Homo sapiens: one gene and its partners. The main gene of each other region encodes a partner of the protein of the gene in region 3 in a complex. Each region holds a gene or a part of one and is shown on either strand. Other genes may lie near its edges. The genes, in order: PHF8, GINS1, TOPBP1 and BRIP1. A codon is read from its position in the direction of its gene.

Region 1 (7,269 bases), on a different chromosome or scaffold from region 3:
CTGAAAATTCTAGAATCTAACAAGCAACAGGAGGAGGGTGCCATACACTGTTTTGTTGTGCTCCAGTGTACAAAGCCCCCTCAAGGTTGTCTTTCCATAGCTGAGATTTAAATCCCATTAATGAAATATTAGTTTTATCGTACACACTAACCTCTCCGGAATTCTGGGTGACAGGTGCTTATGTGCACACACGGTTAACTGAAGGAAATTCATCAGTGGTTTTACTCCTGTTTTACCCAGCATCTATTCTGCTTAATTCAATTTAGTTGGATGGTGCTGCAGATAAATGCTGTAGAAATAAAATACTCTTCCATTTCTGCCTCCATTTATGGAGTACATCCAAACTGCTTTGCAAAGTCAGAAAGGATGTATTTGATAACATTTTATAGCTGAAGACAATGAGGCTCAGAAAAGCAAAGCAACTTGTGCATGGTCACTCTGAAACTAAGTACAAAGCCACAACTTAAATCCCTGTTTATGGACTCAACTACCTCAAATAAGCAACACTGTTTTCCCAAAAGCCAGTGTGTGAGGCAGAACATAATTGTCAGACTATAAAAATGATGACCGGGCACGGTGGCTCACGCCTGTAATCCCAGCACTTTGGGAGGCCGAGGCAGGCAGATCTCCAGAGGTCGGGAGTTCCAGACCAGCCTGATCAACATGGAAAAACACCGTCTCTACTAAAAATACAAAATCAGCTGGGTGTGGTGGTGCATGCCTGTAATCTCAGCTACTTGGAGGCTGGGGCAGGAAAATCGCTTGAACCTGGGAGGCAGAGGTTGCTGTGAGCCGAGATCGCGCCATTGCACTCCAGCCTGGGCAACGAGCGAAACTCCGTCTCGAAAAAAATAAAACAAAATAAAAAATAAAATAGAGAAGAATATAAAAATGATTCTTTGTAACAGGAAAGAAAAGGGGGGGGGGGTCTTATAAATCTAAAAAAACACTCAAAAGAAAAGTGCAAAGAAGAAATACATAGGGGAAAACACAGGAAAAGGAGAAACCAGAGGCTAATGTCAGCTAGGTCCTGTTCTGCAAGGAGAGATGGCAGAACCTGAGTCTGGGAGAGGGGGTCCTGAGCCGGAATCTAAAAACAGAGCTGAGAAAGGAAGAGAGAGCAAGTGAACACACCTGGCCACCGCACCCTGTGTAGCCTGGCCTGCCCTCCTTACCTGCCATGAAACCAGTCCTGGCACATGTCACACTCGATCATGAAGCGGGTCACATCGTAAGGCAGCCGGCAGAGGCAATACACCGGCACCGAGGCCATCTTCGCTCGGCCCTGGAGCGTTCTGCGGCCGGCCAGGTTCGTCGTGTCAAGAGGGGCGGGAGGCGGCAGCACGCGTCCTCTCTGGACGATAGCTAGGCACAAATAACACTTTTTACAGAGTGAATCAGCCCCCGCCCCCCACCCCCTTGCACCAACCCTCAGTTCTCCAATAGAGTTACCGCCGCCGGGATGCAACACAGCTGGTGCGGCTGTAGGGGGCAACCAGAGAAAGTCCACCCGGCCCTTAGAATTTCTTTCACACGTAAAGAACGGAGCTCAACCTTCCAGGCTTCCCACCGCCCCCACACTCTCCACTCCCCACCCCCCACCTTCTTCGGCCCCGTTGTCAGTGATAACTTCTTTCCGGGTTTCAAGAAAATACCTGAAGCCTTTTCGGGAAGCTTCTTTCATCTCTCACTGAACCCTCCCCTAGCTGACCCCTGTTTCACAGGGCTCCCTCTATTATGACGCAAACCACAGCGTCAAAAATGAGGCTGGGGGTATCTCAAGACAAGACCCTCCTCTCACCACCTGAAATAGGGCCAACCAGAGAGAGATAAGGGATCCCTGAAAGTCTCTTCAGGTTACTCAAAGCCTTCACGAACAAGACAGACAAGACTAGGCGCCCAACTCAAATCACAGTTCTGGGGTCGTGTTCGGAGAGTTTAAATAATCCTTTCCATCACTCTCAATATCATTCCTTCCCCGACCAGTCAGGAGTCTCATCACCCCCAAAACTGAAATAAATATAAATCTCTAAACTGACCAGCTCGTTCTGTACTTTAAAGATGACAGGGTTCTGGCTGCATCCCTGAAACTCAAAAGGATCTATTCAAAACCCCTCAAACTGACTAGAATTTCCTCACACTCCCGAAACTAAGCAAGGATTCTTTTGCATCGCTCGGAAACTGGCAGCGTTTCCTTGCAGCCCCCCCTCAAACTGATGAGAGCTCCCTAGTCTCCCCAAATGTTCAGGTACCTCACAGTATATCCTAAAACTGACAGTAATAGCCTCGCAGCCCCCAAAACTTACAGGAATCTTAACGCTTCCCCAACTGACAGGAACCTCCTCACGCCCCAAACCTGACAAGAACGTCTTCAGTCCAGAATCCTACAGGGACCTCCTCATGCTTTGGGCTGCAAGGACTCCACGCCCGCGGAGCTCAGCCCCAGCGACACGCCGGCAGCCGGGCTAGCTCCGGGACTGCGAAGCGCCTCAGCGGAGGCTCGTCCGGTAGTTCCGGCCCCTACGGCGACGCGCGTCGAATTCTGGGATAGTCCCCGTACCGCCGGGAACCTCGCTCGCCTTCCCCTCGAGCCCCCCGCTGGGTCGCGCGGCGCCAGCCGCTCAACGGTGCTTCAGAGCAGCCTCCTCCACAACATTCCCCTCGGCCCGGCCGTTCGGGCCTACTGGAGACCGCGGCTTGGGCCTAGTCTGGCGGCCGCCCGGCGAACGGGCAAGTGGCGTCGTCGCTGGGCCGGCAGGAGATACTCGCGAGCAAACCAACGGGGAAAGAGATGAACCGGCCGCCACGTCCGAGGCACACGGCCCGAAAAGTCGCTGGGAGAAGCCCAGTGGCGGTGGTAGGCAATTCGGAGTAGTCAATAAAGTTTATTCAAAACAATGAGGAAGTTGAGGCGGAGAGGGGAGGAGAAATACGGGATAAACAGCTACCATGTTGAGAGTGGCGGCGCTACCCAGACAACCAAGGCGACCGCCATCTTATGAGGGCTGGACTCGCGAGGTGAGCGCGGCGGAGGCGGGGAACCGCGAGCCGCCGGCTCCCGGGTGACGTCATCGGGGGGGCGGGGCGCCACCTTGAGAAAGGAGGGCGGTTCTCAGCCACCTTTGGACCCGCTCGTCTCTTTAAGGTGCCCAATCGCCGCTGAAGACCTTGAGCCCAGAGGCGGAGAAGCCGCCATCTTAGGCGAGGCAGACGTTTGGCTCCATTTTGAGTGGGGCCCGAAACTTCCTAGCCTTCCCCCTCCTCCGGGCAAACAGGGAGTTCAGCTACCCCGACTCGCACACTCCTCCTCCCCAGCCTTCTCCTCCTATGAGAGGAGGTGAACTCGGTGACTCCAAACTACAAAATTAATAGGTGGCGGCGGGGGCGGGCTTCAGCCGGGGTAGAGGCGGAGTACTCACCGCGGCTCCTGTTCATTGAGCACCTTCGATAGGCTGGGCTCTTTCCCACGGTCTCTGCGTTGTTGGTTCTTCCCCCTGTGAAGGAAGCTCTGTGATTATCACCAAATGAAGGCAGGGGCTTCGAGAAGCCAAGTGACTTGAGTCCCGGAGCAGGGACGTTGAACCTTGTGCCCTGTGCTACCCGCGTTCTGTCCCCAGGCCCTCAGTGTAGTTCCTCTGTAAAGCTGCTGCCAACTCCACAACTCCCTCTGAACTCTTCTTTGACCCTACTGTTTCACTTCAGTTCAAATACAGTTCAAGGATTTGTTTGCACCTGTCCCACAATTTTCTGACTATAGCCTGAGGGGAGGGGAGAGGAGGGGGGATGAGAGGAAAGGCTGAGTTAGTGGAGCTTTGCTGAGTTAGTGGAGCTTCGTACATATGCTTCAAGATGGCCTAGGTTTTCTCAAACATTCTAGAAAATTCTCTAGGAGTTATCTTACTATTTCATTTTCTTAAAGGGTCCCATTGCTTTAAAAAGGAAATGTGTGCGTGCACACAATTTACTAACCAGTGATGGTGGGGTAGGCCCTGGGGATGCAATGGTGAAAACAGGGCCTCTGGAGTGGGAGGGCATCTGCCAGTGCAGGAAACAAAGTTGCGAGTAAACAATTGGAATAGAAGGCACAGTAAGCACACAAATACCACCTGCAAAATGACCTTTGCAAAATGCAACATGAAGCTACAAAAGAGCCTTACAAGCTGCTTGCAGCTGCTGTAAGAAAGACGGCAGGGGGACATGGACGATTAAGTTCACTTAAATAAACAAGCGAGAACATTGTACTCAAAAGGATCAACGTGTACAAATGCATGGAGGCACATAGAAAAATATTTACTAGAAGTTGAATATTGTTGGAACAAGGAAAACAGAAGAGAGATAGGTAGGAGGTCAAACAGTAAAGGGTCACAACATGAAAGATTGCGAAATGCAAAAGAGTTTAGATTGTATGCAGTTAGCAAAAAGAAAACACAGGTTTTTGAGCAGGGGTAGCTTAGTCTCATATTTGTGACTTACCCAGAGGATGGTTTAGGGTTTTTTTTTTTTTTTATGTTTGTTGTTTTAGAGACAAGGTCTCACTCTGTCAACTCAGGCTGGGCGGTCATAGCTCACTGCACCCTAGAACTCCTGGACTCAAGCGGTCCTTCCGCCAGAGCCTCATGAGTAACTGAGACTATAGGCGCACACCACCACACTCGGTTATTTTTTATTTTTTATAGAGCCCAGGCCTCGCTATATTGCTCAGGCTGGTCTCAAACTCCTGGTTTCAGATCCTCTAAAAGCGCTGGGATTACAGGCCTGAGCCACTGCACTGAAAGGTCCAGGTTTAATGGGACCTGAAGCTTATATGGTTTGGGGGAGGAAGGGTGAGACGTCTTTAAGAAAAAAATAGCCGGGCGCGGTGGCTCATGTCTGTAATCCTAGCACTTTGGGAGGCCGAGGCGGGCGGATCACAAGTTCAGGAGTTCGAGACCAGCCTGGCCAACATGGTGAAACGCCATATCTACTAAAAATAAAAATATTAGCCGTGTGTGGTGGCACATGCCTGCAGTCCCACGTACACAGGAGGCTGAGGCAGGAGAATCGCTTGAACACGGGAGGCGGAGGTTGCAGTGATCCGAGACTGTGTCATTGCAGTCCAGCCTGGGTGACAGAGCGAGACTCCATCTCAAAAAAAAAAAAAATGACTTATGAATACAAAATTAGGTTCAAAGGTAGGCAGTAAGAGTATTTCTACAAGCAATTCCTTCACCTGGGTAATAATTACGAAGAGAAGTGATACAAGGCACATGTAAATGTACCATGGGGCCGGGTGCAGATTGCATGTCTGTAATCCCAGCACTTTGGGAGGTCAGGATGGGAGGATCACTTGAGCCCAGGAGTTCAAGACCAGGCTGGGCAACATAGTGAAACCCTGTCTCTACAAAATAAAAATAAAATGAATTTTTAAATAACAAATATCCCATGAAACCCAACCTAAATATATCCCCCAAATCAACTTCCCCTTAGGTGGATCTCAAAAATGTCAGGCAGCTCCAACACCACCTAATGCAAGGGAAAGTATGGCCAGGCCCTCAGTGGAAAGGGACAGCACTTTGAACCAATTGTTGTTTAAATGTATTTTGTGAACTTTATAAAACACATCACCATGTGACCCTATGGAAAGTGACAGGTCCTGCAGTTTAAGATGTCTTAGCTTCACAAGGAGTCAGGAGGAATGAGGCTGTTTCACTAGTGTTGGGGGGAAAAAATTGGTCCAGGATAGTTTGGGAAAGGGTAGAAAAAGATGAGATAATTTGGATATTTTGGAGGTTGACTAGGCAGTGTTTGGAAACTGATAATAGCAGATGAGTGAGTGAAAGGGGTGTGAGTTCACTTCTGGGTTGAGTGTCAGCATAGATGACGGTGCCACTGAATGAACTGGGCTACGCAGAAGAGAAAACAGATTTGGTGGGGAGGAGACTAAATTTAATTTGGACTATGTTGAGTTCAGGTGTGTGTGGAACATTAATTCCCTCACCCAACAGTTCTTTATTAATCTACTATGCATCATGCACTGTGCTAGGTGCTGAGGATGTTGAGGTACCCCAGATAAGGCCCTGGCCTGCATGCAGCTGACAGTCTACTGGCGGAAACAGTCAATGATCAAATAAAATTTCATTAATATGTGAATTTCATTCACATATTTTCTTGAACACCTACTGTTAGGCACTGGGGATTTAGGGGTAAACAAAACAGACAAGTCCCCGCCCTCCTGTGACTCATTTCCAGCAAGGGAGACGGATAAAAAGTGAGGCAAATCAGAGAATTTCCAATTGAGGTGAGTGCTATCAGGAAAGTAAGACCAGTTATGAGATAGAGAATGATTTGAAAGGAAAGCAGTCTATTTTAGATAAGGTAGTCAAGGAAGGGTTCTCAGAGAAGGTGACAGGAGCTGAGACCTGAATAACAAAAAGAGCTAGCTAGGGACAAAGGCAAAAGGAATCAAAAGTGTTGGCCGGGTGTGGTGGCTCACGCCTGTAATCTCAGCACTTTGGGAGGCCGAGGCGGGTGGATCACGAGGTCAAGAGATCCAGACCATCCTGGCCAACATGGTGAAACCCCATCTCTACTAAAAATACAAAAAATTAGCTGGGTGTGGTGGCACGTGCCTGTAGTCCCAGCTACTCAGGAGGCTGAGGCAGGAGAATCGCGTGAACCCGGGAGGCAGAGCTTGCGGTGAGCCGAGATTGTGCCACTGCACTCCAGCCTGGGCGACAGAGCAAGACTCCATCTCAAAAAAAAAAAAAAAAGTGCTAAAGCCCTAAGATGGGGGCAAGAGGACTGGGTGGGCTACAGGTGGGGGTCAGGGTCTCCAAGCCTGAATTAGAGACCCTGTGTGTACCCTTAGGGAATAGACGATCTAATAAATTAACAAAACAAGGAGGCTGGAAAAGGTCAAACCCTAAGTGCTACATAGAGGTTTGAGCAACCTGTGTGGTGTGGGAACAAAGAGGCAGTCACAGTTAATTCAAACACATTCAGTGGGTGTGTGAGGAAAGGCTTCACAAGAGGTAGCATTGGACCTAGGTACAGTGGTTCCTACCCCGACTCCTAAAATTCCTCCCCAGTGTCCTTGAGAGGTGGGGAGTGGACAAAGGATATTAGGAAAGGCAAAGCTGCCAGGGGTCTGAACCAGAGGCAGTCAGATTTGCTGACAAAGCAAGTCTTGCCACTGCTAAGGATGGGAGGCAGCTGGCTGCTGCCCTGGAAATGTGTGGACTGGTCCAGTCTCAGAGGATGCAGCCCATGATGGGACCTGGCTGCCACAGC
Region 2 (7,035 bases), on a different chromosome or scaffold from region 3:
ATTTTTAGTAGAGACAGGGTTTCACCATGTTGGCCAGGCTGGTCTCGAACTCCTGATCCCAGATGATCCACCCGCCTTGGCCTCCAAAATTGCTGGGATTATAGGCATGAGCCACTGTGCCTGGCCAAAGGTCCTTATTTCTAAGACAAAGAAAAAATAGTAAGAACACTACCGTATTCAGTAGTGAAAGACCGTGATGCACTTAAATAGTGTGGCACCAACAAGTGAAACACGATGAAAAAAATATGGCAAAATAATAAAAATTGTTAAAACCATATGATAGCTCCACTGGGGTTCATTATAGTATTATTCTCCCTACTTTTAAAAGTGTTGTGATTTTTCATAATAAAAAATTAAAAAAATGAAAACACAGAGGAAAAATTTAGAATGCTTACAAAGAGAGAGAGATCTAAGATTTCATGTTACCCATTTGAGATGGTCAACTGGGAAGCCACACAGAAAATCCTGCCACCCCAAGCAAAAACTGAGAAGCTTACAGGTATGCTACAGTGCAGCGTCGATTTCTTAACAGAGAACAGTGTCGAAATTTGATAGTTGGTATCAAATCACTTCGTCCACCTGACTTTGCTTCATTCCTGATAGGAGCATTTAAAAAGAAAAAAAATATGTACTTTTCAGGATAAGTAAAATTTTCAAAGCCAACTAACAACTGAGTTACATGCTTGTTTTTAATCCATTTGTGATTAGCAGTTAACCTAAGCAAATAATAACTATTTGTACATCAGAGCTTTTATTAATATGTTAAAAAGCCAAAACCTAAACAACTTGCCTAAGATCATGCTACCAGATACATTTTGTTTAGGCATTTGGTACTTTGCATTTTTGCACACTGATTAATCTCTATTCTTTCTAAAAGACACTGTGTTATTCACTTTTCAGGATTCCATTATCACGCTGAGATAAGAGACAAAGCTAACATGATGGACATGAGGTTATGGTCTTACGTCATGTCGCTATTCTACATAGTACCTCCCTTCCAGTGGAGCTTCCAAATCCTCATTATAACAAAGTGAGGTAAAATGGAGTCAAAATGGTCTTTCACTCATCTTACAAATATCTGTTGATCTCCAAATACGTGTACGTACTATACTTCAGTATTTCTCACACTGAAAATTTTGGTTTTACCCTATAAAAAGTACATGTAACTTTTGAATGAATAAGAATCTACTTTGGAGTTTTTAAGCAACCATATGCATATAAAAAGAATTCATTCATGTAGTGCCTGCCTCTATGCCAGGCACTGTGCTAGGCCCTGATAATACAGGCAAAATACATGTCCCATCCTGTCATGTCTTCTAGGGCTGTTCTATATACTTCTGCCACCCTATGAAAGTCTGATGAAACTAGGAAGGTGGAATAAAGAATTTTGGATCATGAATTTGCGAATGGCATAAACACAGAGAATACAAGAAAATCATTCCCTTACTGAACCAAGGCCTATAGGGTCTCCTCCAAAACATTTATAACCTTCTCACTTTCTACCAAGTCTGGGTCACCTCTCTAGTAACCTGGTGACCAGCTTCCCCCACCTCTCAGCCCCTCCACACAGCAACCAGCATTATCTTTTAAGACACAAACACACCACCACCTGTCCACACTTACACCTCATCTGGTGTCATCCTTTGCCACTTGCCAAACTCCAGCCACATAGGTCTTCTTTAAGTGTCAGTTTCTTGAGTGCCCCATTCTCTTCCATGATTCAGGGGCTTTTGCATATGCTGTTCCCTCCACCTAGAATGTTCTATGCCCACAGTCACTGCCTCCCTAAGACTTGCATCTCCTGCAGGCCTCAGCTGAAATGTCTCCTCTTTGGAGAGAAGTTCCCTGATTCCTCAATTTAAGCTAGACCTTCTATTCATTTTTCTTTCTCCTTGCACTCTTCTGATTTCCTTCATAGCATGAATCCCAATTTGGCATATCTATATTTCATGTCTGTCTTCTGCACTAGACAGTGAGCGCCAGGGACAGGCATCTTTTTTTTTTTTTTTTTTTTGAGATGGAGTTTCGCTATTGTTGCCCAAGCTGGAGTGCAATGACGCGATCTCGACTCACCACAACCTCCGCCTCCCAGGTTCAAGCGATTCTCCTGCCTCAACCTCCGGAGTAGCTGGGATTACAGGCATGCGCCACCACGCATGGCTAATTTTGTATTTTTCGTAGACAGGGTTTCACCATGTTGGTCAGGCTGGTCTCGAGCTCCTGACCTCAGATGATCCACCCGCCTCGGCCTCCCAAAGTGCTGGGACTACAGGCATGGGCCACACTGTGCCCAGCCCGGGAAAGCCATCTTGACTGTTGTTTACCACTGAAATAGCACAGCCACTTATTGATACATATTTGTTTAGTACATATTTGAGTAAATCAATGAATGGCTTAGGGACTTGAGTTCAGGACTTTAAATCTGCCTTATATTTACTGCAAATCTGTTGAGGTTCACTTCCTCAGTCCACCTGTAAAGATTTTTCTGTATCTCTCCTTATACACAGGAGTTGGAAATGCTCCTATCATTTTATGTGCCTCACAAATCTTACCAGCCATAACACTGATTTCTATATTCAAGTAACTGATAAAAACACTGTAGCGAACAAGCCCAAAGAGGAAACCTCATGTCACAGACAGTTGAGACCCTGAATACTTCAACTTTGATCCAGTACTTGACTCCCTTTGGTGTCGCACAGGAACATACGAAGTTTGTCATACGCCCAAATTCTCCACTGTGCCAGCTACCATGCTCAGTTCTAAAGAGTCAATAAATCTAGTCACCTCTCTGGACCTACTACACTGAAACCTTTTATAGCTAGTTCTCAGAGAACTCCACTCAAACTATCAGAAATCACTGCTGCTCCTATTTATATCCATTTAATAAACTGCCTATTCTTCCTTTAACAAACTCACTAAGGCAACTGTTGATAAAAATATAAACAGTGGGAACCATGTATTTCACTTTGTTAGGTTTTTATTTTTATTTATTATTTTTAAAGATGGAGATCTCCTTCTGTCACCCAGGCTAGGGTGCAGTAACGTGATCATAGCTCACTGCAGCCTCAAACCCCTGCACTCAAGCAAGCCTCTCACCTTACCCTGCTGAGTAGCTAAGACTCCAGGTGTGTGCCACCACACCCAGCTAATTTTTATTTTTTTAATAGAGACAGAGTCCTGCTATATGTCCAGGCTCCTGGCCTCAACTGATCCTTTTGCCTTGGCCTCCCAAAGCACAGGGATTTATAGCCATGAGCCACCGTGTCCAGCCTATTTTTATTTTTTATTTTAGGGTATGTCATTTATTTTAGGTCCACTCTAATTCCTTTCAACTCTTATCAGCCAAACAACAGATATTTATTAAGCAGTGATCAGCACAAATTTCTTCAGACTTTTGCTAATTTGTACAGCTAGAGCAGATAATTTTACAGATAATTTTTAAAAATCGCATCCCAAAACTAATGCAAGGTTATCTGATTTCAACATCTTTTTTTTTTTTTTTTTTTTTTTGGAGACAGAGTCTTGCCCTATCGCCAGGCTGGAGTGAAGTGGTGCAATCTCAGCTCACTGCAACCTCCACCTCCCGGGTACAAACAGTTCTCCTGCCTCAGCCTCCTGAGTAGCTGGGATTACAGGCACCCACTACCACACCCGGTTAATTTTTGTATTTTTAGTAGAGACAAGGTTTCACCATGTTGGCCAAGCTGATCTCAAACTCCTGACCTCGTAATCCGCCCGCCTCAGCCTCCCAAAGTGCTGGGATTACAGGCGTGAGCCACCGCGCCCGGCCAATTTCAACATCTTAATTATTGAATTGTTTTAGAATATCATCTTATGAAACTTACACATCAGACTGGTTTTGTTCATACAAAGCTTTCATCTCCTCCAGAACTTGTCTGAGTCCATCCTCCTAGAACATATAAACCGATATTGAAATCCACTGATTTCCCCACCAATTCTGTGGCAATATGCTATCAATACTGAACTGTATCTTTCATTTATATACTTTAGCAAAAAGCAATAGTCCTTTCACACCCCACTAGCATGGTTATAACAAGTGTTGGTGAGATGCGGAGAAACTGGAACCCTCGTACATTGCTGGTGGGAATGTAAAACGGTATAGCCCTGTGGGCAAAAACTTGACAGTTCCTCAAAAGCTACACACAGAATTACCATATGACTCAGTAATTTTACTCCTAGGTGTATATATATACTCAAGAAAACAGAAAACACATGTTTTTTGCAGCATTATTCATAACAATAAAAATGTAGAAACAACCCAAACGTCCATCAAATGATAGATGGATAAACCTTCCACTTATCTGAAAAATCTAATATAATAAAAAGAATGGGTCAAGGGTGGTGGCTCATGCCTGTAATCCCAGCGCTTTGGAAGGCTGAGGCGGGTGGATCACCTGAGGTCAGAAGTTCAAAACCAGCCTGGTCAACATGGTGAAACCCCGTCTCTCCTAAATATACAAAAATTAGCCAGGCGTGGTGACAGGCTGTAATCCCAGCTATTCAGGAGGCTGAGGCAGGGGAAATCGCTTGAACCCGGGTTGCAATGAGCCAAGATCATGCCATTGCACTCCAGCCTGAGCAACAAGAGCGAAACTTCGTCTCAAAGAAAAAAAAAAAAAAAATGAACTACTGACAACATACACAACAATGAGGATAATCTGAAATACGTTATACTGAGCAAGAGATGCCTGACACAAGAGTTTACATGAAATGATTCCCTCTGGCCCTTCACAGGAAAAGTTTGCCAAAAAGAATAATATCATCTGTAGTCAGAGAAAGCAAATTCATGGTTGCCTAAGGCTATAGGTGGGAGGTAGCTACAAAAGGGGGGCAAAGTTACAGAAATCTTTTTTAATTTTTTTATTTTTGTGGGTACACAGTAGGTATGTATATTTATGGGTTATATGAGATATTTTGATAATTACAGAAATCTTGATCAGGGTGCTGGTTATAAAGATGTACATATTAGTCAAAATTCAAAAATCTATTAAAATACACATGTTGTATGTAAATTATACATCAATAAAATTGACGAACAAAGATATCAATCGTCCTACTGAAGCATGAGGTATAAAGAAAAATATGTAAATAATTCATAATTTACTAAAAAATGGTCTTTTTTTTTAGATGGAGTCTCACACTGTCGCCTGGGCTGGAGTGCAATGGTGCAATCTCGGCTCACTGCAACCTCTGCCTCCTGGGTTCAAGCAATTCTCCTGTCTCAGCCTCCCGAGTAGCTGGGATTACAGGCGCCCACCACCACGCCTGGCTAATTTTTTGTATTTTTAGTAGAGACGGGGTTTCACTATATTGGCCAGGCTGGTCTTGAACTCCTGACCTCGGGTGATCCACCCGCCTCAGCCTCCCAAAGTGCTGGGATTACAGGGATGAGCCACTGGGCCCAGCTTAAAAGTGATCTTAAAAGGTTAATACCAAAAGAAAGAAAAAGGAATAGTGTTTTTGGTTTGCACTGCAAAAACCGGCCATAGGAGTTTTTCTAGTATCCAGTTTCGGGCAAATTTTCCCTTGGAAAAATAAAACATTAGAATTCTGATTTTTTTCGTTGTTGTTGAGATGAAGTCTCACTCTGTGGCCCAGGTTGGAGTGCAGTAGTGCGATCTCAGCTCACTGCAACCTCTGCCTCCCAGGTTTAAGTGATTCTCTTGCCTCAGCCTCTCGAGTAGCTGGGACTACAGGTGTGCACCAGCAATGCCCAGCTAATTTTTTTTTTTTTTGAGACGGAGTTTTGTTCTTGTCACCCAGGCTGGAGTACAATGGTGCAATCTTGGCTCACTGCAACCTCCGTCTCCCGGGTCCAAGCAATGATTCTCCTGCCTTAGCCTCTCAAGTAGCTGGGATTACAGGTGCCCATCACGTCCAGCTAATTTTTGTATTTTTAGTAGAGACAGGGTTTCACCATGTTCACCAGGTTGGTCTCGAACTCCTGACCTCAGGCAATCCACCCACCTCAGCCTCCCAAAGTGCTAGGATTACAGGTGTAAGCCACCAAGTCTGGCTAATTTTTGTAATCTTTTTTTTTTTGGTAGAGACAGGGTTTCGCCATGTTGGCCACACTGCTCTCAAACTCCTGACCTCAAGTGATCCGCCTGCCATGGTCTCCCAAAGTGCTGCGAGTACAGGCAGGAGCCACCGTGTCCAGCCCAAAATGATTAAATGTTACCCAATAGGTCTGCCAACAATCGAAAGAGAAGCAATCCCATCTCTTTTTCACTGTCTATTTTTAGGGCCAAAATATATGTGTTGGCAAAAATGCTGTGGCATATACAAATGGCACAATTCCAAAATCAACTACTCAACTCTGCTCAAAAGATGTAATTCCTGATGGAAAATGCAAGCATGACTTCTACCTGAGCCCAAGGTAATTTTCTTACCTTTTCCTTTTTGAGACAGGGATTCAGTCTGTCACCCAGGCTGGAGTGTAATAGCGTGACCACAGTTCACTGCAGTTTCAACTTCCTGGAGCCATGCAATCCTCTCACTTCAGCCTCCTAAGTTGCTGGGACTACAGGTGTGTGCCACCACACCCAGCTAATTCTATTTTTTGTAAAAATGGGGTCTCACTATGTTGCCCAGGCTAGTCTCGAACTCCTGGGCTCAAGTGTTCCTTCCACCTTGACCTCCCAAAGTGGTGGCTGGGATTACAGGCATGAGCCACCATGCTTGGCCTAACTTTCTTAAAAATGTACTTTTTAAAAAAAGTATCAATTCTGCATATAGAAAGGGTGTAATCACTTTTCTGTTTGCTGAACACAGCGCTTAACCATGAGTGATTCCAGAAGAAAAGCCTGTGTGTTGGGCCGGGCACGGTGGCTCACGCCTATAATCCCAGCACTTTGGGAGGCTGAGGTGGGTGGATCGCCTGAGGTCAGGAGTTCGAGACCAGCCCGGCCAAAATAGTGAAACCCCATCTCTACTAAAAATACATAAAATTATCTGGGCATGGTGGCAGGCGCCTGTAATCCCAGCTACTAGGGAAGCTGAGGCAGGAGAATT
Region 3 (3,239 bases):
AACGGTTTACATCAAAATTACATTCCTAACGGATTCTAGTTTGTCCTTAAAATGAAATTAGGTGTATTTATAGAGAATTCTGGTAACGCATGTAGTATTAGGTGTTTAGGTTTAGCATAATAAAGGCTAATGCAATACAGAGTTCCAATAACAGTATGTTTTAATCTAATAGGGCAATATTCTAAATAACAAATATCAGAAATGTTAAGCAATTCATTTATTTTTTTTGAGACAGGGTCTCATTCTGTCACCCAGGCTGGAGTTGCAGTGGCATGATTTCAGCTCACTGCAACCTCTGCCTCCTGAGTTCAAGTAATTCTCATGCCTCAGCCTCCCAAGTAGCTGGGACTACAAGCATCAAACAGCATGCCCGGCTAATTTTTTGCTATTTTTTGCAGAGATGGGGTTTCGCCATGTTGTCCAGGCTGGTCTTGAACTTCTGGGTTCAAGCAGTCCACCCACCTTGGCCTCCCAAAGTGGTGGGATTACAAGCATGAGCCACCGTGCCTGGCCTGCAATTCTTTTTTTTTTTTTTTTTGAGATGGAGTTTCGCTCTTGTTGCCCAGGCTGGAGTGCAATGGCGCGATCTCAGCTCACCGCAACCTCCGCCTCCCGGGTTCAAGCGATTCTCCTGCCTCAGCCTCCTGAGTAGCTGGGATTACAGGCATGTGCCACCACACTGGGCTAATTTTTTGTATTTTTAGTACAGATGAGGTTTCTCCATGTTGGTCAGGCTGGTCTCAAACTCCCGACCTCAGACGATCCGCCTGCCTCAGCCTCCCAAAGTGCTGGGATTACAGGCACGAGCCACCGCACCCAGGCCCCTGCAATTCATTTTTTACGTTACATAAATGTTTTGTTGCTTCAACAGAAGAACAGATGCCAGGGTGCTCTTTTAAAAAATTTATCTATGTAAACACATCTTAATACTAATTTGAGTTACTACTTTTATTCTTTATTGTCACATTTTCCAAGTTTTGCGCATTCAAACTTGGCAAACATCATGGAGATTTGTACAAACATACATATACATATATACACACATATTTATAGCCCCAGCTTCCTCATTAAACCTTGTGCTCAGGCTCCTGTTAAAAGAGGTAAAATGGTGAGAAGATAAAAATCAGGGAAAACATGAATAAATGCTGACTGACAAATCTTGTTGTTATGAATTTGTAAGGCAGACATTTTAAAGCAAAATCCATTACCTTGCTAAAATTTCCACTAAGCTACAGCTTCAGATATTTACAAGAAAAATAAATATCTTTTAACAGACTTCAATGTGGTTTAACAGCAAGCTAGCTGAGGAGTTGTATTTTGTTGTTATTTCAGGTAACTTTTTATTAAGAAACAGTTAATATTTCAGTGATTACAATTTCAGGTGTTCAAAACTCAAGAAGGGTCATCATTATACTCTGAAGCAGAATTCTTCAGGTACTCATCTTTAAATTACTACCCAAATCTATCACAGTCACATTCAGGCTTTCAATTTTTAAAAACATTTAATGTTTGGTAACTAAAGGGTAGATGCGATTAGTGTACTCTAGGTCGTTTGATTTTATTTTTTTCTGTAGGAGCTTTCCTCTTTTGTGATAATCCAGTCCCAAGTTCCTTATTATTCTGAATAAATGAAATAGCTTCTGGTAGACAGTAATTTTCTACATGAGGAGGTGATTCCTATAAAAGGAAAAATAAGTGATTTTTTAAAATGATTTCAAACATTTACGTGATCTGGTAATAGATTTTTTCTTTAAATCTCAGACCTCTCAGGGATGAATCTGACAAACTTAAAGGAAAACGCATATTCATTCCTAGGTTCCAGCAAATTAAACAAAATGGACCCTGTGGGACAAAGTCTCACCTTTTATCAAAGAAATACGTGTATGGTTCAGGTAGAGTGGGACTAGCTCAGATCTTACAAACATTTCATATCGGTGTTTTTAATCCCCATTTTTGAGATAAAATAAAAAAGGTTAAATGAAAACAACCAATGTCACATAACTAGCAGGTAGCAAAGCCAAATTTCATAACTGATCTGACTCCAAAACCCTTGCATTTTCCCCCCACAACCATTTCCCAACATAGAAATGGATCTTTTCCTCCTTATTATAAGTGTAATAAAACTTAATTTTCTAGCAATATGGCAGACTGGGCAACCTGAAAATGAATCACCACAAAATACCAAGTAAGTGCCTTTTGATTCAATTCTTCCATGGATAACAGCTACAAATTCTGACCAAAATATATTAAAAGCAACCATAGAGCCTGGAGAATAAACGAACCAAGCAAATGGGGGGCTGGGGACGCAAACACAGTGTATGAAGTAAACTGCCTGTTAAACAACACAGTACTCTTTGGAGGAGCAAAGGAACAATAGAACCTAGAGTTTCTTTTTTAGGGGGAGATAAGGGTCTTGCTGTGTTGCCCAGGCTGGTGGCTGGTCTCAAAAATGACACATTGAATACAAGGGAACAATTCAAATGACCATCACTGATTTCTCAACAGAAACAATGGAGGCCAGCAGACAGTGAAGTCTTTAATAGAAGAAAAAAACCTGTCAATCTATAATTCTGTATCCTGCAAAACTGTCCTTCAACAATGAAGGTAGAATAGACATTTCATACAACAGAAAGCTAGAATTGATCCCCAATCAACCTGCACTCCAAACTAAAGTTAGTTCTTCAGGCTGAAGGAAAATGTTATCAGATGGAAACTCAGATCTTCAGGGAAAACTGACACTCAAACTGGTATACATGAGGGTAATTATAAAATACCATTTTTTATTTTAGTTTCCTCAAAATGCACAGAATTGTTAAAAGCAAAACCTATTTAAAGTAAAATCTTATTTGGGGCTATAAGATGTAGATGTAAAATATATGACAACTACTGCATAAAGCAGAGGTCAGCACACTTTCTGTAAAGGCTCAGACAGAAACATTTTAGATTTTGTGGGATAGATGATTTGTGCTGAAACTACTTAACTCTGCCATTATAGTGCAAAAGCAGCCATAGAAAATACATAAATGAATGAGTATGGCTGTTTTCCAACAAACCTTTATTTATAAAATAGGCAGTGGGCCAGGTTTGGCCAGGTGGCTATAGTTTACTGACCCCTGGTATAAAGGACAGGGGAAGCAAATGAACCAACTTGGATGCAAGAGATCTACCTTTTTTCATTTTTTTTTTTTTTTTTTTTGAGACAGAGTTTCGCTCTTGTCACCTAGGCTGGAGTGCAGAGG
Region 4 (6,965 bases), on a different chromosome or scaffold from region 3:
AAATCCAAAAATTAGCTGGGCGTGGTGGCGCATCCCTGTAATCCCAGCTACTGGGGAGGCTGAGGCAGGAGAATAGCTTCAGCCTGGGAGGCAGGGGTTGCAGTGAGCCAAGATCGCGCCACTGCACTCCAATCTGGGCGACAGAGTGAGACGCTGTCTCAAAAACAAAAAGAAAAAAGGAAGTTCACAGCAGCATTGTTTGTAACTGCAAAAGAATGTAAACAACCTAAATGTCTACCAATAAGAAAATGGACAGATAAATTCTGGTATATTCATCCAATGGAATTTATACAACAATTAAAATGGATTAAGAATCAACAGGGCTATACATTAAAAATAATGCTAAGTTAAAAAACTCAAGTTCTGCATAAAAAGTAAGGTACCGTATCACATCAATGCACAGTTTCAAATATGTAAAATAATATTCTATATTGTTTATGGATACATATATATGTAATAAAAGTATAAAAACATGGCTAGGAAAGGAAAAGAACAAATTCAGGATACTAATAATCTTGTTACCAGTAAATAAGATATGAAGTACATATGGCAAAATAGCTGTAACAAAACTGGAAAGCTGGTTTACTCAAATTTGTATATTAATTTTCTACATGATCCAAACAAAACAATGGTGAGAAAAATAGTATTCTGTGTAAAAGATAGTAAATACTCTGTTTTTACTTAAAAGTATAGCAGTTTTTCATTAAAAGTATAGAAATTCCAAATGAGCTGAGAACATTTTTCAGAATGTTCTTCTTTGCCTTAACCACAGATATATACAGTTTAGCTGCAATCAGTAGTTTCCCAGAGGTTAGATATTCTTCCAAGTGAACCCAGAAAATATTCTCCATTTACTGAGAATATGAATGCAGTCAAATACTCAATGTACTTTATGGGTCATAAGTATCTATATCTTAATAAAAACTTAACTGCTGAAAAATACTTACAGAATTCATCATAGCAAGCTGTGACGGGTAAGCTTTATAAGGAAAGTAAATCTTCACCCCACCAATTGTATATTCAGACCACATTGAAGACATAGTGCTTTCCTGTTTATTTCAGATTCCTAACTACAACAGAAATGAAAATGTCAAATATTGAGACACGCCTTACAAAGAAAACCAGAGAACCAAAACTAAGGGAGAAATCTGGAAACAGAAACTGGAATTAATAAAAGTATAAACAAAACAAATGGAAACAAAATAATTTCCTAGTCTTATAAATCACAGCGGTCAAGAGCATGTCTTAGAGTCTAACAAATCTAGATTTGTATCCTTCACTCTGCCAGGTATTAGTTGTGTGACTTCGGGAAAGTTAGTTACCTTCTCTAAGCCACAGTGACTGCATGTACCCCATAGGATTGTGGTAATGATTAAGTGAAATAATGTGCAAATATGATAAAGTACATACCAGATTAAACATGAGCTCTTGTAACAGTTAGATCAGATGTAATCAACCTACAGAAACAAATAAGTTCCTGAGGCCTCTCTCTCTACAACTCCGTAGCATCACTCTTTCTCCAGTTCTTCCCCTTTGTGTTACCCCTTTCTGCAGTCCTCCAGTTAGAAGAAAAAAGCTGTTGACCAGAAGTCAGGAAGCATAGGTTCTATACCAGGTTTTGGTATACTGCCTGGTATGTTATCTTTGACTCAGGTATGTTATCTTTGACATATCTTTTTACTTCTCTAGTCTAAGATCCTTACCTGTGATAACCCCTAATTTAATTTAAAGGCTGTTATAAGAAAGAGAATGCCTTGGCACATAGTAGGCACTCAAAAATGTTATTTGAAGATCAGTAGAGTATTATAGAAACAGGATGGGCTTTGGAGTAAGGCAATCCTAAGTTTGAATTCCACTGTGTGAATCACTTAACTTCTCAGAGCTTGTTTCTCCATATATGGAATTGAAATACTACTACTTACCTGACAGGGTTTTTATGAAAATTAGCCAGGGCAGAATGTACCTAACCCAGGATCTGATACAGATGAGGATCACTTTAATCCTCACCTCTTCTAAACCACTTTTCTTAACCTAGGATCCACGGATGTAATTCAGAGACAATGACCTCTTGAAATTGCAAGCATAAGTTTCTGTACATGATTGCATTTTTCTGAAGAAAAAGTCCATAGATTTCTCTTCCCGTAAATATATCTCAAGGAAATCAAAATAGCGGGGGAAATTACATGCACTGTTATTAAATAAGGAATTATTTGCAGTCGTGGGAAAAAATTGTAAATTCAACCTGGGGACGAAGAGATGGTTAAAATAGCAATTCAATAGATTATGAAGCCAATAATAACATTCACCACTGCTTGTGTGCTCCAAAAGAAGAACCATTATTCTAGGGTATTTTCCAGCTCTAACATTTTGCGATTCTATCTGTAAAGCTCTGAGAATGAGGTATGGTGGAATCTAACCTCTTAATATGAATCAACAACTCAACGCTGGCCTAGTTACTCAGATATAATCTAGAAATCAGCCCGTCCTGTACCCCGGCTGTGGCAACAATAGTGTCAAAATGGGGTAGCTTCCCCCAAACATTGCATAAAGGATAAACACACCCCTCTGCCTCCCGCCAAGAATTAACGCAGCGCCCGGGCTAAGAACAGGCCTGCGCTCAAAGGAGGTAAGGATAGGCTCCCTCCTCAGGTTTTCTGCCCCGTATCTCCCTCCTCCCCCAGCCAGTTGAGATCCCCGAGACCCTGGTGATCCAGTCACCACCCATGGGCCCGCAGGCTGTGCAGAAGAACTCAAGCCCTTTCCGTGGACTTCCCTCCGACTTGCCTGTCTGGAGGGAAACCGAAGCAACGCTCTGAGCTCCGATTCACTGAAGAAAAGGAAAGGAAACCGACTTCTGAGAGCAAATAAAGCGGAGCCCTGGAAGAGAAGAAAGGGCACGAGCCCTTCCTCCTCCCTCTTCCTGGGGGTGCTGCTACTTCCCCGGCCTTGTGTGCAGGACTGGGGCCGCCGTTACCTTTCCTCGACCCACCAGACCCCTCAACCACACAACCCGAGACGAATTCCCGCCTCCCGCCCCCTCGACTCCCAGCGCCCAATAGCCCAGCGAGCTCGACCAATCACCCGCCAAGGCCAGGAATCAACCAGTCCCGGTGCGAGGTGAGGGGGCGAGAACTTCGGCATCCAATGGAAGTCTCCGAAAAAAAAAAAAAAAAACAAGGGCTCAAGGTACGCGGCGGAAGGTTGTCGCCACTCCAGCAAATCCCTAGTGTTTGTTTAAAGTAGAAAGTCGTCTCAGTTTGACTTTTGAAACCGGCGATAGAGTCTATGCAGCAAATTCCTTGGAAACTGGAAGTCTCATTCTTCACGTCCGTAGACCAGCGGAAAGGAAGTATCTTTAAGCTTTGCCAAGTTCTTTGAGCATTTATCAGTGCCACTCAATTTAAATTACCCAGCTTTGCAGTAGCCAGGATAGCGAAGACTCAGGCGGGAATTGCCAGACTGCTGAGCCAAACTTAAGTAAGAAGGCTCTGTGACATCGGGCTACAATCTATCTTTCATAATATTCAAGGCTTTCCCGGATGCTAAAATAAGCCAGAGACAAGCTCTCAGGGTCTCCAGTATCAGATCACTTCTACTTCCATTAAGGCTTATCCGCCTTCCATCCCTCCTAAGACCAGTTTATTATTTGCCAGTAGTACTTTAATTTACTCAAAGAAAAGGAGGTTCATCATGATCTTGCCAAATCATGTTATTTTTTTAAAAAATCTGTATAACCTAAACTTGGCTCAAATAATAATGTCTCCAAAAGGCAAAACCTCATACTGTTTCTCAAATTCAAGTAACTAGTTTGGGGAAGGAGTTTGCTGGGAAGAAAGAGCAGGAGGGGGCTAGTTGATTTGTTTGCCTCATTGTCAATTGTGATATATCTTACCAAAAATGACAAAACTTGTAGTCATAAAAATAAACTCTACCCTTTGACCTAGTAATCTGAGCTCCAGATATTTATCCTAAAGACGTAATCTAAACGAAAGAAAATGTGATACCGCAATTGACAATAATATCTATTGGTAATACTGAAAAAAATTATGAACTTCCCAGTCTAGTAATATGGAGGTGGTTATGACAGATGAATTCAATACATTATGAAGCCAATAAACTTATAAAAATTAAACTTGCAAGAAAAAATCCCATATAAGGTTAAGTGAAAAAAGGCAAAGCAAACCCCAAACTGGGTGTTAGGGATTCAGTAATGTGAAAATACATATGAATGAGCAAAGATGAAGTAATTTACTGTTAAGACAATGAAAGGAAGGATAATGTTTAAAAATAAATCCTTAAAAATACCTTCAAATTGTCATTTCTCTTTTATAATTTTTAAAACATCAACTCTTGGCCGGGCGCAGTGGCTCACGCCTGTAATCCCAGCACTTTGGGAGGCCGAGGCAGGCGGATCACCAGGTCAGGAGACCAAGACCATCCTGGCTAACACGGTGAAACCCCGTCTCTACTAAAAATACAAAAAATTAGCCGGGCGTGGTGGCGGGCGCCTGTAGTCCCAGCTACTCGGGAGACTGAGGCAGGAGAATGGCGTGAACCCAGGAGGCGGAGCTTGCAGTGAGCCGAGATGGCGCCACTGCACTCCAGCCTGGGAGACAGAGCGAGACTCCGTCTCAAAAAAAAAAAAAATCAACTCTTTTGAGTAACTGCTCTAGTATAACTACTCTCATTTTCCTCTCCTAAATTACTAAGAGTTTCAACTGGCTCTCACCTTGCATTGCCATTTAATGTATGTGGCATAACAGAAAGGGATACACGTAGGCCCTGGAGCCATACAGACCTCGAATACAGTCCCTTGAACCGTTCCCTTCAGGTTAACTCTAGTGGAATGAAACACAAAAACTACAGGTTCGTTTGATAAAGAATATGAATGTTTATAAACCAATATTCAAAATAGCTGCACACATCTGTTTTCACTTGAATAAAAAAACACATTGTGACAAATTTTATAACCTTAACTTAAAATACATGAATATTAACATTTACTAATATATTTACACATTTTATTTACATCATCAACAAATCTGATGAAAAAGAGCATATGTGATTATTTTAACACAGCAGGTTATGACCAGTCTTTGAATATTGATCCAGGAATGTGCACTGCATTTAATTAGAAAACATACTTTTAACTTTTTCTGAACTCCTAGGGCATATCTATTCACACAAAATATCGCAAGGCCTCAGTTTAAAAAAAAAAGGAGCAGTTGTATTTAATCTTAAGGGACTACAAAACTGCCTTGTTTAAAAATATGAAAATTCTTATGCTATTTTTAAGATACTTTTATTACTTTTATTTTTCACATCAAAATTACTTAATTGAACATTAAGCATCTAATAAAAAGTTATAAATATTCTATCACATGTGATACTATGCACTTCATGATTTGAAACAGCTACAAACTCATTCTCATAGAATATGAGGTAGGGCCAGTAGTAACCCCATTTTACAAAGGAAGAAAATGAGATGTGACTATTTACTAGTGAAAAGGCTAAAGTTAAATTTCATTTCTCAAAAACTACACCTTCTTATTAGCCTAATTTCTTTTACAAGTGAAGCGGTCTGGCCAGGTGCGGTGGCTCACACCTGTAATCCCAGCACTTTGGGAGGCCAAGGTGGGCAGATCACCTGAGGCCAGGAGTTCAAAACCAGTCTGGGCAACATGGCAAACCCCCGTCTTTACTAAAAATACAAAAATACAGGTGGCGCGTGCCTGCAGTCCCAGCTACTCAGGAGGTTGAGGCACGAGAATCCCTTGAACCCAGGTGGCAGAAGTTGCAGTGAGCCAAGATCATCCCACTGCACTCCAGCCTGGGCAACAGGGGAAGACTCCACCTCAGGAAAAAAAAAAAAAAAACACAAGTGAAGAGGTCTGTTTCAAGTGGGGGTGGGGAAGTGTGTGATTGAGGTATATCTCAGAGAGAAAAAAGGGAATTACTTTCTACATTGATAATTTTTTTTTAATGATTAGGGTTTACCTGAATATGTCTGCCTAATCAATGGAAGTTACTGACAGAGGACTGCAAAATCCTTCGGCAAGACAATATTTTCTACACTTTAACTTTTCCTCAGGTTCAAACACTGCATTTTCTTACTCAAAGATCTTCTCAAAGTAAGATATGAATTATAATCCTGATGACAAACCAAGAGCTCTTTAATCCAGTGGGTTTTATTGCTCTACCTTCATTTAATTTGATACATATTTCCCCCCTCTGAGCATTAGGTAAGTTAATAAAGCATTATAAAAATAAATTTAAAACATAAAACTAAATGAGATCTCTCAGGTTCTTCTTTGAACAAAGATGTTTCTGTAAACACTTTTACACCAGTATCTTAAAATTCCAAATTATTCAAGTATCTCTTTAAACATATGGCTTCATATATTAATAAAAATTGAAGCAAATATGTGAAATCTTTAAATCCTCATCTGTATTTCCACAGAAATCATTTACAAAAGCTACTTGCCTTTTTAAAAGTCTTCTCAATACTCTTTCTTGAGAACTAGAATTCCAACTTGCATTACTATTACTTGCACTGCAAATCTTTGAGATTTCTACTTGTGTTTTTAACTCCTATTATTTCCTTAATTCTCCTTTCCCTTTACCCTTTTTTCCTCTCCCATCTTTGCATCTTTGTCACATTCTGTTACAAGCTCACAGTTAAAATAAACACTAGGGCTACCCACAGACTCATTTTTATAAGAAATTAAAGGCATGGCAGTCTTCACTTCAAAAGCTAAATACAAGGCCAAATTCCCTTTCCAATAATGAGTTTCTTACATGTGTTCCCAGTGGAAAAAAAAAAAGCTCAGCTGCTACAATAGAAACATATCAGCAAAGTAGATCCAAAGATGTGCCAATCAGAAACAAGCAAGCATAATTCTCATAAAGTTCTAAACTATACTCATGTTGAATTGAATTGTTTTAGTGATTCCAAGACAATACTT

The links.
Region 1: the proteins of TOPBP1 (region 3) and PHF8 are in contact, whole or in part, in a crystal structure (PDB 7CMZ), measured with the Homo sapiens proteins. Residues at the interface, in NP_008958.2 of Homo sapiens: Gln1298, Cys1299, Arg1314, Asn1315, Glu1316, Leu1319, Arg1369, Ser1406, Arg1407, Gly1410, Phe1411, Arg1413, Leu1414, Arg1465, Thr1466, Glu1467, Ala1470, Asp1471, Gln1475, Asn1483 (codon at 1,656), Tyr1484 (codon at 1,653); in NP_001171825.1 of Homo sapiens: Gly842, Ala843, Cys844, Phe845, Asp847, Ala848, Tyr850, Ile851, Tyr852, Pro853, Ser854, Leu855, Glu856.
Region 2: the proteins of TOPBP1 (region 3) and GINS1 are in contact, whole or in part, in a cryo-EM structure (PDB 8OK2), measured with the Homo sapiens proteins. Residues at the interface, in NP_008958.2 of Homo sapiens: Leu490, Leu491, Ser492, Gln493, Tyr494, Glu495, Asn496, Leu586, Ser587, Arg588, Thr589, Val590, Val596, Cys601, Glu602, Val603, Ala605, Thr606, Val607, Gly608, Val610, Lys629, Pro636, Val637, Pro638, Val639, Met640, Thr641, Arg726; in NP_066545.3 of Homo sapiens: Asn43 (codon at 3,859), Gln44 (codon at 3,856), Val47 (codon at 3,847), Asn48 (codon at 595), Lys51 (codon at 586), His66 (codon at 541), Arg91, Tyr94, Gly95, Ser96, Asn100, Arg103, Phe104, Arg119, Ala122, Met125, Glu132, Gly133, Leu134, Asp135, Thr137, Gln138, Asp139.
Region 4: the proteins of TOPBP1 (region 3) and BRIP1 are in contact, whole or in part, in a crystal structure (PDB 3AL3), measured with the Homo sapiens proteins. Residues at the interface, in NP_008958.2 of Homo sapiens: Leu1272, Ser1273, Ser1274, Leu1275, Asn1276, Pro1277, Arg1280, Gln1298, His1311, Leu1313, Arg1314, Asn1315, Glu1316, Lys1317, Leu1319, Gln1366, Arg1407, Gly1410, Phe1411, Leu1414, Thr1466, Glu1467, Ile1469, Ala1470; in NP_114432.2 of Homo sapiens: Ser1129, Tyr1131, Phe1132, Thr1133, Pro1134, Glu1135, Leu1136, Tyr1137, Asp1138.

The regions. Positions count from the first base shown.
Region 1 is NC_000023.11:54,041,456-54,048,724, forward strand, and holds the start of PHF8 (histone lysine demethylase PHF8), read right to left. Parts: upstream 3,019-7,269; 5' UTR 2,307-3,018; exon of another isoform or gene 1,656-2,306; intron 1,366-1,655; coding exon of another isoform or gene 1,274-1,365; coding exon 1,176-1,273; intron 1-1,175. UniProt on the Homo sapiens protein: Histone lysine demethylase with selectivity for the di- and monomethyl states that plays a key role cell cycle progression, rDNA transcription and brain development.
Region 2 is NC_000020.11:25,410,665-25,417,699, reverse strand, and holds part of GINS1 (DNA replication complex GINS protein PSF1), read right to left. Parts: intron 6,584-7,035; exon of another isoform or gene 6,414-6,583; intron 3,911-6,413; coding exon 3,846-3,910; intron 597-3,845; coding exon 498-596; intron 1-497. UniProt on the Homo sapiens protein: Required for correct functioning of the GINS complex, a complex that plays an essential role in the initiation of DNA replication, and progression of DNA replication forks.
Region 3 is NC_000003.12:133,599,717-133,602,955, forward strand, and holds the end of TOPBP1 (DNA topoisomerase 2-binding protein 1), read right to left. Parts: intron 1,678-3,239; coding exon 1,534-1,677; 3' UTR 522-1,533; downstream 1-521. UniProt on the Homo sapiens protein: Scaffold protein that acts as a key protein-protein adapter in DNA replication and DNA repair. Composed of multiple BRCT domains, which specifically recognize and bind phosphorylated proteins, bringing proteins together into functional combinations.
Region 4 is NC_000017.11:61,860,500-61,867,464, forward strand, and holds the start of BRIP1 (Fanconi anemia group J protein), read right to left. Parts: upstream 3,030-6,965; 5' UTR 2,785-3,029; exon of another isoform or gene 1,411-2,784; intron 1,071-1,410; 5' UTR 1,041-1,070; coding exon 948-1,040; intron 1-947. UniProt on the Homo sapiens protein: DNA-dependent ATPase and 5'-3' DNA helicase required for the maintenance of chromosomal stability. Acts late in the Fanconi anemia pathway, after FANCD2 ubiquitination.